3 linked regions of the Homo sapiens genome follow. The protein of the gene in region 3 purifies or fractionates together with the protein of the main gene of each other region. This does not show direct contact. Each region holds a gene or a part of one and is shown on either strand. Other genes may lie near its edges.

Evidence for each region.
Region 1: the proteins of SERPINB12 (region 3) and SULF2 purify together in Homo sapiens (co-immunoprecipitation; one large-scale study listed by IntAct). This does not show direct contact.
Region 2: the proteins of SERPINB12 (region 3) and ARMC9 purify together in Homo sapiens (co-immunoprecipitation; one large-scale study listed by IntAct). This does not show direct contact.

What each region holds. Positions count from the first base shown.
Region 1 is NC_000020.11:47,782,536-47,786,697, reverse strand, and holds the start of SULF2 (extracellular sulfatase Sulf-2 isoform a precursor), read left to right. Parts: upstream 1-1,216; 5' UTR 1,217-1,355; intron 1,356-4,162. UniProt on the Homo sapiens protein: Exhibits arylsulfatase activity and highly specific endoglucosamine-6-sulfatase activity. It can remove sulfate from the C-6 position of glucosamine within specific subregions of intact heparin.
Region 2 is NC_000002.12:231,355,607-231,359,252, forward strand, and holds part of ARMC9 (lisH domain-containing protein ARMC9), read left to right. Parts: intron 1-191; coding exon 192-328; intron 329-3,646. UniProt on the Homo sapiens protein: Involved in ciliogenesis. It is required for appropriate acetylation and polyglutamylation of ciliary microtubules, and regulation of cilium length. Acts as a positive regulator of hedgehog (Hh)signaling.
Region 3 is NC_000018.10:63,555,786-63,559,431, forward strand, and holds part of SERPINB12 (serpin B12), read left to right. Parts: intron 1-356; coding exon of another isoform or gene 357-374; coding exon 375-542; intron 543-2,566; coding exon 2,567-2,701; intron 2,702-3,646. UniProt on the Homo sapiens protein: Inhibits trypsin and plasmin, but not thrombin, coagulation factor Xa, or urokinase-type plasminogen activator. May play a role in cell differentiation.

The sequences.
Region 1 (4,162 bases), on a different chromosome or scaffold from region 3:
AAACCACGGTAGACAGCACCCCCTTGAGTCCAATTCCTCCCCTTTCGGAGGAAGCCGGTTTCTCCTTTCTATGCTACTCCCGGGCCATTTCTGGACAACAGCTGCTATTTTCACTTGAGCCGAAGTTAATTTCTCGGGGAGTTCTCGGGCGCGCACAGGCAGCTCGGTTTGCCCTGCGATTGAGCTGCGGGTCGCGGCCGGCGCCGGCCTCTCCAATGGCAAATGTGTGTGGCTGGAGGCGAGCGCGAGGCTTTCGGCAAAGGCAGTCGAGTGTTTGCAGACCGGGGCGAGTCCTGTGAAAGCAGATAAAAGAAAACATTTATTAACGTGTCATTACGAGGGGAGCGCCCGGCCGGGGCTGTCGCACTCCCCGCGGAACATTTGGCTCCCTCCAGCTCCGAGAGAGGAGAAGAAGAAAGCGGAAAAGAGGCAGATTCACGTCGTTTCCAGCCAAGTGGACCTGATCGATGGCCCTCCTGAATTTATCACGATATTTGATTTATTAGCGATGCCCCCTGGTTTGTGTGTTACGCACACACACGTGCACACAAGGCTCTGGCTCGCTTCCCTCCCTCGTTTCCAGCTCCTGGGCGAATCCCACATCTGTTTCAACTCTCCGCCGAGGGCGAGCAGGAGCGAGAGTGTGTCGAGTGAGTGTGCGTCTGTGTGTCCCGGCGAGGGTGCGCGCTCGGCGCCGGGAGCGCGGCCAGCCGAGTCCGGAGGCATCGGGAGGTCGAGAGCCGCCGGGACCCCAGCTCTGCGTTCACTGCCCCGTCCGGAGCTGGACTTCGGGGCCGGGGCCGGGGCCGTGCGCCGGGGACAGGCAGGGCCGGGTCGCGGGCCGCGCGTCCCCCAGGCCGGAGGTAAAAGCGCTAGCGCGCGGAGGGCTCGAGGAGGGCACCGCGGCTGGGCCCCCCGCGCCCCGGGCCCCAGCCGTCCGCGGCTCCCGGCCCGACGCTCCCCGCCCCGGAGCGCGCCCGCCTCCCCTGCGTGGAGGCCGGCGGGCAGGCGAGCGGGGGGCGGTAGCGCCGTGCCAAGGGGCTGGCTGGGGCAGCGTGGCCGGCCGGGCTGGGGCGATTTAAGAGCGGTCCGGGCGGGGTGCGGAGCCGGACTTTGGCTGGGGCGGCGCGCGGGGAGGGGGCCGGGGGCGGTGGCGGCGGCGTTGGGGGGCGGGGAGGAGGCAGGAGGAGGAGCAGCAGCGCTCGCCGGGGGATGCAGCAGCGGCAGCGGCGGCGGCGGCGGCGGCAGCGGCAGCGGCGGCGCGGAGTCCCCTGCGCCCAGCGGCCCGGCCGGGCTGCGGCAGAGGCGGCGGCGGCGCCCCGCTCCGGGTGAGGTTGCCGGGGCCGTGCGCGCTGGTGAGTGGGGCGTGGGGGGCAGGTGGGTGGCTGGGGGACGCGGGGCTCGGGCGGGGGCTCGCGGCGGCCGGAGCCTTCCCCGGCGTGAGCCCGGCCGCGAGCGCCGCCCAGGTGAGCCGGGGCTGGTCCGGACCGCCCGGCTCCAGCCCCAGCGCTGCTTGCGGAGGTGGGTCCGGGCGGGCGGGAGGGAGGCTCCGGCGCCGGCCGTCCGCAGAGGGATGACCTGTTTGACCCCGCTGGCTGGCGGGCGGGCGAGGACTTCCCGCCGCGCCCCTGACCCGCGGACACGGCACACCGAGCACAGGCGGCCCCGGGTAGGGGAGCGCGCCTGGGCCGGCCATCCGCAGGGGCATGGCCTTGTTGACCCTTAGGGTTTAGACCCAAGGGACCGGTAGATGCCAGCCCACGTGGGGCTTGTCCGGGCAGGACTCGGGGAAGCAGTGGGCCGGATCTTCAGAGTGGTTGGAAACTCGCAGACACCGAAAGGACAAACAGGATCGAAAAGGCAGACTTCCTCCCAGGCCAGGGCAGAACGAGTTTCCATCGCCTGGCGGAGGGATGCTCCCCTCCCCGGCTCCTCGGGGTTTCAGAAGTCTAGCGGTGAATTCTAGGAGTGCACTTTTCCAAACATTCCTTATAGTAGTTCGTTCATTCGTTCTACAAGCATTTCTGGAGCACCCCCTCGTGCCGGGCACCGCGTTCTGTTCCAGGGAAACGCGGCTGAACAGGATCTGGCTCCTGCGCGCCAGAAGCTGCCGGTTCACTGGGAGGGCAGCAGGGTAGAGAGATGCCGTCTCGGGGTGGAAGATGGAAAGGGAAGCCTGCAATCCTAGTTTGCACACTGGCCTCGGTCCGCAACTCCCCCACCTGCACGCAGTAGGCCCAGCACACAGTAGGAAGAGCAAGCCAGACCTGCCTGTGACGACCCTCTCCTCCTCCTCCTCCCCCTTGAAAGCTTTGATTCATTCCCTGCCCCCCTTTCTGGAAAGTCTTCCTGCAGCTTGTTTTAATCACTTTTTGAGTTAAAAGTCAATATTTAATTAACCAAGTAATTACATTCAGCTTACGTTTCAATCTGGGTATTTGCTCATCTGTGCGTGTTGGGACACCCGCCCTCTCGCCCCTCCATCTGTCCCCTGCCTGTTTCCCACCGGGTCCACCCCCACTTTTGGGGCAGAGAAGGGGAGGCTGCGCTGGAGCAGGTTCTCAGGGGGAGACAGGGAGCAGGAGAGACGGGCTTTCTCTGGAGGACACCCCCGGATCTGCGCGCTCTCCAAATTTCAGCTTGTAGTGAATAGTGAAGGTGATTTCTTGACAGCCTCTGCCTCCCATTACAGAACCACCAGAGGGTTCTAATTAAATTAGAGCCAATCGTTAAGTATAGGAACGGGGTAGGGAGGACAGAACGAAGGGGGCCCCTTCCCTGTAAGAGATGTTCTCCCCAGCTTCGTCTCTCCCACATCATAGAGAAGAGAAAACTCATCCAGACAGCCTGTCGGATGTGTAATTTAGCGTTCTAATAAGCAGCTTGAAAGGCGAAGGTGGTGGGCTTGGCAGATGGCATGTTGGACCTTTGTACATGAAGGCCTCTTCCTTCCCCAGCTAAATTTATATACATAAAGGCCGTGATGTTGGCATCACTGCTGCAGCTGAGGGTCAATGTGGGTTTGGGGTTTGGGCTTTGTGTGTACTTCTTGGGTTTTTTATTTGAATTTATGGCTTTTTCTGAAACCCTAATAACATGTTAAATTTTCAAACTTGAGAGTAGAGTGATGAGTTGACTGTAAAAGTCTGGTCTTGGAGGAGGACAGCATAGCAGTGTGTGTGCATGCACGTGCATGTCCCCCAGTTCAGCTGCTGTCCAAAGAACCCAGTTGATATGCAGTTTCACACCTGATTTGGACCTGATTTGGGAGATAACATTTCCTTCTCACTTTTTCTGGCACTGGTTAGTTTATCTGCTTGGACCTGCCTCAAGAGGGCAGCTGGGTTAACCAGGCAGAATATCACCCAACTCTGTCAAGCTTTGGCCATTATCTGACCTTAGACTTTAGTCCTGCAGAAGGAGTCCAGAAGCCCTGTCCTACAGAAAAATATCAGCATTTCTGACCAGCTTGTAGTTAAAAGAAAAGGTTTAGTCCAGACTTAAGATAATTGGTAACACTTAAGTAGTTTTGTATGGGCCTGATCTGAGGCATTGATCTAAGCCCTTATACCTTACTCATTAAATCCACACAAATACCCTGTTAAGTAAGTACTGCCATTGTTGCCATATTAAAGATGAGGAAACAGGCACAGAGAGGATTGTGACTTGCCTACAGCTGGTCACAGGTAGAGCTGGGATTCAAGAGGCCCTCAAGCTCCGGGGTCCACTTGGAACCACTGGACTCTCCTCCATGACCTTGGCCTTTGTCCCAGATGTAGAAGAAACACATATGCAGGGGAAGAAAACACCTTCAGACAGTCAAACTTTGCAAAGTAAAAGGCCCTTAACTTTCCATAAACCCCCACTGTTCCGACAGAGAGTCCGGGTTTGTATTTGAGGTTTTTTGCCCCAAGGAAAACATGTGTCTGCCTGGTGCTTTTTCTTCTGCTTATGAGCAGACACACTGTCCCCTCCCCCAGTCAAAATGCAAAGGGAAACATCAAATGCAGCTGATGGAAAAGCCAGGTGAACCATGGTGAAGATTTCAGCCCACTCAGAGCACAGTGGCCAGAGAGCAAAAGCTCTCCTAGAGGTGAGACCTTCCTGTGGTTGGTGATGGAGTCTCGATGGCCTGGCCCTGGGGGTGGTGCCAGGGTGCTCT
Region 2 (3,646 bases), on a different chromosome or scaffold from region 3:
AGGCTACTGCCTCACAGGGTCAGCCTCCTGGCTCCTGCCAAGACCCTTTAGAAGGTCTGATATGCTAATGATGGTTTAACAAGACTTTGAGGCACCGCCCCCTCCTGTATTTGTGATGCTGCAGTCGGCAGTCGGCAGTCCGAATCTCCTGGCTGGCTGTACTCACTGCCGTTTTTCATGTTTTTCTCCAGGGTGGAAGACCAACACACACCTCCCCAGACAGCCCAGCACGCCAGAAACGGCCACCCGCAGGCCCTGCCAGCCGCTCACGAGGCTGTCTACAGGGAGGGCAAGCCCAGCACCCCGGAGTCCTGCGTCTCCTCTTCATGTAAGAATGTGGGCAGCACACTGGGTCAGTTCTGGGATTGTGATGTCTAGAACCTACGCAAAACAGCAGCAGGAGTGGCAGACGCACGTCTGCTCCTGGGAAGCCCTCTGGTCTCAGCAACAGCCCCGTGTCACAGAGGCTCACGGGATTCCCAGCCCACAGCCAGACCCATGCTGGGCTGGTCCTCTGCGTCCCCTTCTCAGAGCACTGCCTGTTGTCCCGTCTGGGAGCTCCTGGGGCAAGATTTCTGACTGGTGAAAGCCGGCTTTAATGTGAAATTTCGGAGGAGGAATGCCGGGCTGATGTTGATCTGTGACCCTGATTCTGATAGCTCAGATTCTGGTGCAGAGAAGGCCAGCCGCCTGCTGGAAGGCTGGACGGAGGCAGAAATGTGCAACTAAGAGCACAAACAACTCTGGGATCCAAACGCCTTTGAAACTTCCAGCTGAGTTAACCAGAGGCTGATGGGAGATAAAAGTATTTTTTAGATGCCAGAAAAAATATATATACTTTGAATCAGAAATGTACAAAGTATTTTTTTTAATTTTTGAAAGGAAATTAAAAGGATTATGAGCAGTTCAGATAAGACTCTAATTTCCATTTGAGTAGGAAAAACAACAGAGGAACGGGTTGGATTCCTGTCTGAGAAACATCTGAGAACTTGCATCTGCTCACAATTGGATTCAGACGCTTCCAGGCCCAGGTGCAGAGCGGTAGCTAGTGACGAGTCAGCACTGGCTGGGTTATTTGCAACTCCTGGGTCTCTTGGTGATGAGCAGTTTCAGAGGTTTTGCCAGCGTTGATCATCAGTTATTTTACATGTGCTTTACTAAAGCTGTAAATATTAATATGCTCTCCAAAGGTGAGCAGCTTAGTAATTTATCCAGAGATTTCTGCTGCCAGGGTGGAGGTCTTAGGGGGCGTCTGAAAAGTTTTGCCAATTTGACTGAATGCCATTGAGTTAAAACATTTCAAGTTCTTAGGCCTGGACTTCCTGAAAGGCTCCACAGTACATTCAGGGTAACGTAGCGGTAACATCCTTGCTTTACCAAAATGACCACTGAGAGGCCCTTTATTTTTGCACTGATTGGACGTGCCTTTGGGAAGCTGTCATGCTGTTACCTGCAGGGCGGAGGCACTTGAGGTTGGCATGGATGGAAATGGCCAAGGAGCAGCTGCTGCAATGTTGATGTTATTGTTGTTTTCAAGAACAGTTTACTTTAGCCCTGACAAAGTCTGGGCCCAGGCACATTCCGGGTTCTTGCATGAACAGGGTGGGCACCCACCAGGACACTCAGCCTTGGTGGTCACGGGCGGTTGCCAGTGCTTCTTCCTAGGGAGGCAGCAGCTGCCCACCAGCCCCCAGATGGACCGGCTGGAGGCAGAGCAGTGCTTTTCCCAAATCCCGCTGTCAGTGCCCCCATTAACCTGCCCCAAATGCTGAGACCGTGTTCTGAGTGTCCCTTCCTTAAGCCTGCTCCTATTGGCTCAGCCTGGCTGGGACCCAGGACACGGACCCACGCAGCCCTGCCCTTCTCCACCTGCCAGAGACCAGGAATAGTCACTGCCCTCCCTGGCCCTGCCAGGCCCGCTCTGAGCCTCAGGCCAACACCCCTAGTCCTCCTTTTATTTTATTTTATTTTACTTTATTTTATTTTATTTTGAGACAAGGTCTCACTCTGTCCCCCAGGCTGGAGTGCAGTGGCCAGTCATAGCTCACTGCAGCCTCACATTCCTAAGCGATCCTCCCGCATCAGCTTCCTGAGTAGCTGGCACTACAGATGCACCACCATACCAGGCAAAGTGGTTTTCTATTTTTTGTAAAGACGAAGTTTGCTGTTGCCTAGGCTGGTCTTGAACTCCTAGTCTCAAGTAATCCTCCTGCCTGAGCCTCCCAAAGCACTGGGATTACAGGCGTGAGCCATCATGCCTGGCCCTCTTAGTCTCCTTTAAAATCCTTTTACTTGACAAAAAGTTCTTCCTTTGGAAAAACCAAGCCCCAGGTGCAGTTTCCTCTGGGTCATGAGTAAGCCTTTGCCACGCTTGGAGTAGATTCCATTCTGACCTTCTTTCAGACAGGCCTGCCCACGGCCTGTTGCGTCTCCCCAGTTGGCCTCCCTGCCCCTCTCCCTGTCCTGTCACCTGCCTCTGCCTAAGGGATGGATGGCAAACAGCCCTCTGCTTCTGTGCTCCATCTGGGCTTTGCAGATAGGGGGACTGCGGTTAAGTCCATTAAGCCAGGGTATGAATGAGGGGGAGGGGGATGAGCAGCAGGGACAGCAGGGAGTGGGCAGTGCTGGGCTGGGCATGGGCACCCCTGAGCCATGTTGCCTTCTGCTTCATTCCTTCCCTGCTCAGGAGCTTGCTCTGACTTCCTCCAGACAGTCCTGCTTCTCCATCCCTCCCCTCCACTTCAATTGATTGATTGATTGATTGATTGATTGATTGTAGAGAGAGGTGTCTCTCTGTGCTGCCCAGGCTGGTCTTGAACCCTTGGGCTCAAGCGATCCTCCCGCCTCGGCCTCCCAAAGTGCTGGGATTACAGGCATGGGGCCCCCTCCACTTCCCTTCTCTCACTCACCTTGCCCCAGGCCCATCCTGGCCCCAGGCAGCGCTCCCCACAGGTCTCCTTGCACACAGCTCGCTGCTGAGTCTGGCCTGTGCTGGGAACTAACGCCCCACCCAGAGACCCCGTGGAAACCCCCACCTTCACGCTGAGTTTCTTGAGGAAGAGCCTTTGCGCTTTGCGTTCAGTCAGCACCGCAGGGAAAACTCATGAGGAGGAACCTGTTGGACCCTCAAACTGCTTGATCGGTTGAGTGCAGGCCCAGAAAGTACATTCTAGGCAAAAGACAGCCCCAAATGCCAACAGGAAATAGTTCCCAAGGGAAAAGGCCAATAATATGGCTTAGCATTTTGCAGAACGTTGGCCTAAGGAAAGCTATTCTCATTTCCCCACCAACCAGGACTATCTTCAATATCAAAATCACATGCCTTGGGACTTCATAGCCCTGGGAGTTAAAATGCCCAGCCCTGTCTGAAATGGACCAGCAGGCAAGAGATACTACTGTCCCAGGAAGACCCCGGTGCACACCCATGGCTGCCCCATCTCCTAGCTCCTGGCTGTCTTAGTTAGGGGGGTCTCCTGTTTTTTTTTTTTTTTTTTTTTGAGATGGAGTCTCGCTCTCTCACCCAGGCTGGAGTGCAGTGGTGCGATCTTGGCTCACTGCAAACTCCGCCTCCCGGGGTTCAAGTGATTCCCCTGCCTCAGCCTCCTGAGTAGCTGGGATTACAGGCATGTGTTACCATACCCGGCTA
Region 3 (3,646 bases):
GATTTTCCTTGAGAGTCTTGAAATGAACCAAATCTGCTGATATCTTGATTTTGGACGTTTGTCCCCCAGAACCATGGGAGAATAAACTCCTGCTATTTAAACCACTCAGTCTGTGGTAATTTCTTATGGCAGCCCCAGGAAACGAATTCACACTACTAAATGAAAATAGATCTCTGTCTATCAATATCAACACCAATATTTATATACAGGGATGATAATGACCTTAGTTTTCCAGTTCTTAATAGCATACTGAATAATTGTGCATGATTGTATTTCAGGTATGTAAAATAAAATTGTTTGTTCACTTATTTTCTTCCAATCACCATTTTCTCTTTCTCCTTTTTTTTTGGTTTTAGATCGTTATAAGTTTTACAATGGACTCTCTTGTTACAGCAAACACCAAATTTTGCTTTGATCTTTTTCAAGAGATAGGCAAAGATGATCGTCATAAAAACATATTTTTCTCTCCCCTGAGCCTCTCAGCTGCCCTTGGTATGGTACGCTTGGGTGCTAGAAGTGACAGTGCACATCAGATTGATGAGGTACGTGTCCACTAGGGTGCTACACAGGGTCCTAAACTCTGGGTCCACACTCAAAGTCAGACCCTAATCCCACTTAGGCAAGCCAAGGGGCTTATTGCACCCTGGGCTTGGTCAGAACCCATCCCTGTCTCTGAGTCTTTATTTGTATTTTCTCCATCTTACTTCCTCTTCGATCCTACCATTCTTAAAGTCTCACTTAAACTTGTACCTTCTTTAGGGTGCTCCTCAACTTCATGTCTGGCAGCTTTTCTCATTCATCTCTATCTTTATCTCTGTATGCATGTCTGTCACTCTTTTACTCTATGATTGCTAATACCAATATTGCTAGCGATTTTTAGTATGTGTATATGTCTTCTGTCTCACTCATTTCATTAAATAAATATTCATTAAGTACCATATATGGTTCCAGTGGCTAGAGAGCTTGGTGTCCTCCTGGACTCTTTCTCTCTCACTTTATACCACATTTGTTAGAAAATTCTGTTGGCTTTTCTTTTGAAAGATATCCATAATCCAGGCACTTCTCCCAGTCTCCTTGAGGTCTGAACCACAACCATCTTTTCTCACCTGGATACTGCAGCAACTTCCTGATGGGCTTTCCTGCTCTCACTGGCAATCTATCCTTTGCACAGCAGTCCAAGAGACCCTTTTAAAACCTGAGCCAGATTCTATTTCTCATCTGTTCAAAAACCTGGATTTCTTATTTCACTCATGATAGCAGTTCAAGTCCTTACAATGGCCCACAAGGATCTGGAGATCTGAATCCCAGATAAGCCCTGTGACTCCATCTCTCACTTTCATCCCTCCTCACTGTACCTGTCACATTGGCCTCCTGGCTTCCTTGGGTAAGTCATGCCCATCCTATCTTGGGGCCTTTGCTCTCGGTCCCTTTGCCTGATGGCTCTTTCCCCTGGTAACTGACCTCAGCTCACTTTCTTCTTCAAGACTTTGATCAGTGTTTATCTCCTATACGGGGCCTACTTTGACCTCCTAATCTAGTGCTGCATCCTGACCTCCAGACCATAAGGGATACTTTTGTAGGCACCTAATAAACATTTCTAGAATAAATAAATGAAGGTAATAAGAACAAATCCCCAAATAAACTACAAGTTCCCATGGTTGGCCTTATACTTCCTTGGATGTAGCACATAGTGCGGGGGTTATGCACAACTCAGGCTGTTTCCCCTGAATATGGAGCAGTAGAATTTATGGATTAAGACAGAATGTGTTTCTGGGGTCATTCTGCTTTATTCATCTACTAAGATTTGGTGTATTATTTTCTTATTCCATTAGCAAAACTTAGCTTTAGAGTGTGGTTTGCATCTTGCAGGGCAGAATTCAGATGTTCTTTCTTAGGCAGTTGAGGGCACCTGCTGACCAAATGGGTCTGAGTAGTGCAGGATATGACGCCTGTCTCCTACCTTTCTACCAGGCTCTGGATAACTTGTCTTTTGCTGTCCTCACTCCCTTGATTCATGTGAAACTCTAGATCAGCACTGTCTGACACAAACATAATGAGAACCACATAGTAATTTAAAATTTTTTAGTAACTGTATTGCAAAAGTAAAAAGAAACAGGTGGGACTAATTTTAATAATAATTTTTTAACCTAGTATATGCAAAATATCATATCCACATATCATCAATATAAGAATTTTAATGAGCTATTTTATTTATTTATTTTTTTATACTATATTCAAGATCTGGTGTGTATTTTGCACTTACAGTCAATTCAGATTGGGTATCTATGAAATGCTCCATAGTTACATTTAGCTTGTGGATACCTCTATGTTCTTTTAGTTTGGTTATATTTATTCATAAATGCTCTCCCAGGGTAGCGGTTGGTTCTTCTCCTCGATTCCACCTCCCAACCCAAGTACAGAAGCACCCACTTTCCTTTAAACTGTTGTTGATTGTTTTGTTTGACTATGTAATCATTGCCATTGTCTCATTATGAAATGTTTCTGAAGTTATTCAGGCTTCCCTCTGTTCATATTATCTGAAAGACCCCATCCCGTTATCATGCAGGTACTACACTTCAACGAATTTTCCCAGAATGAAAGCAAAGAACCTGACCCTTGTCTGAAAAGCAACAAACAAAAAGTGCTGGCTGACAGCTCTCTGGAGGGGCAGAAAAAAACGACAGAGCCTCTGGATCAGCAGGTGAACCGCCACCGTAGAAAACTCTTGCCTTTCTTTTTTACAAACTGCTTATTCTGGCTGTAGGATATTTGGTGATAGTTGCTTATCCCCAAATATTAGACTCTGGATACCATCAACAGCAATAACCTCATGTGATCTGTGATTCCTGAGTATGGATCTCAGATGTCCTTGGCTATCAGCTAGTTTCCTAAAGAGTAGGATCTGGTGTCTTCTGCTTATGATAAAGAAGCCTAGATCATCACTCTGTCCCTCATCTGCTTCTATAGGCCACAGGGCCCCAACACAGAGTATGGTCAAAGATAAAGGTGGTAAGGGGTAGGGTCAGCTGTGGAATTCTTACTGTCTCCCTCTATCTCTGCTTGTTCCATTTCGTGCTGAAATCTGCACTGACAGACAAAACTTTTATTGGTTGCCTCATGCCAGGAGGAGGAAAGATATTATCCAGGGTATGCATCCCCCTACTTTAGAAAGTTTAAGAGGAGGGTGGATAGATGATTGTCTTTCTTTCTTTCCTTCCTTCTTTCTTTCTTTCTTTCTTTCTTTCTTTCTTTCTTTCTTTCTTTCTTTCTTTCTCTCCTTCTTCTCTCCTTCTCTCCTTCTCTCTTTCTCTCTTTCTTTCTTTCTTTTTGTTTTTTCTGAGATGGAGTTTCGTTGTGTTGCCAGGCTGGAGTGCAGTGGCGCAATCTCAGCTCACTTCAACCTCCGCCTCCTGGGTTCAAGCAATTTTCCTGCCTCAGCCTCCAGAGTAGCTGGGATTACAGGCATGAGCCACCATGCCTGGCCTCTTTGAAATGTAAAGAAAATCAGAGTGTGTCAGTCTGAAATATAGTGAGCGTTGCTGAGTTCCCCAGATGTATTTTTCCTGGATGATCTTGATATAGATGTGGGAGCCATAATCTTCCACTGGGACCACTTCTCACCCTCCATTCCTCTGTTCTTCCCAGC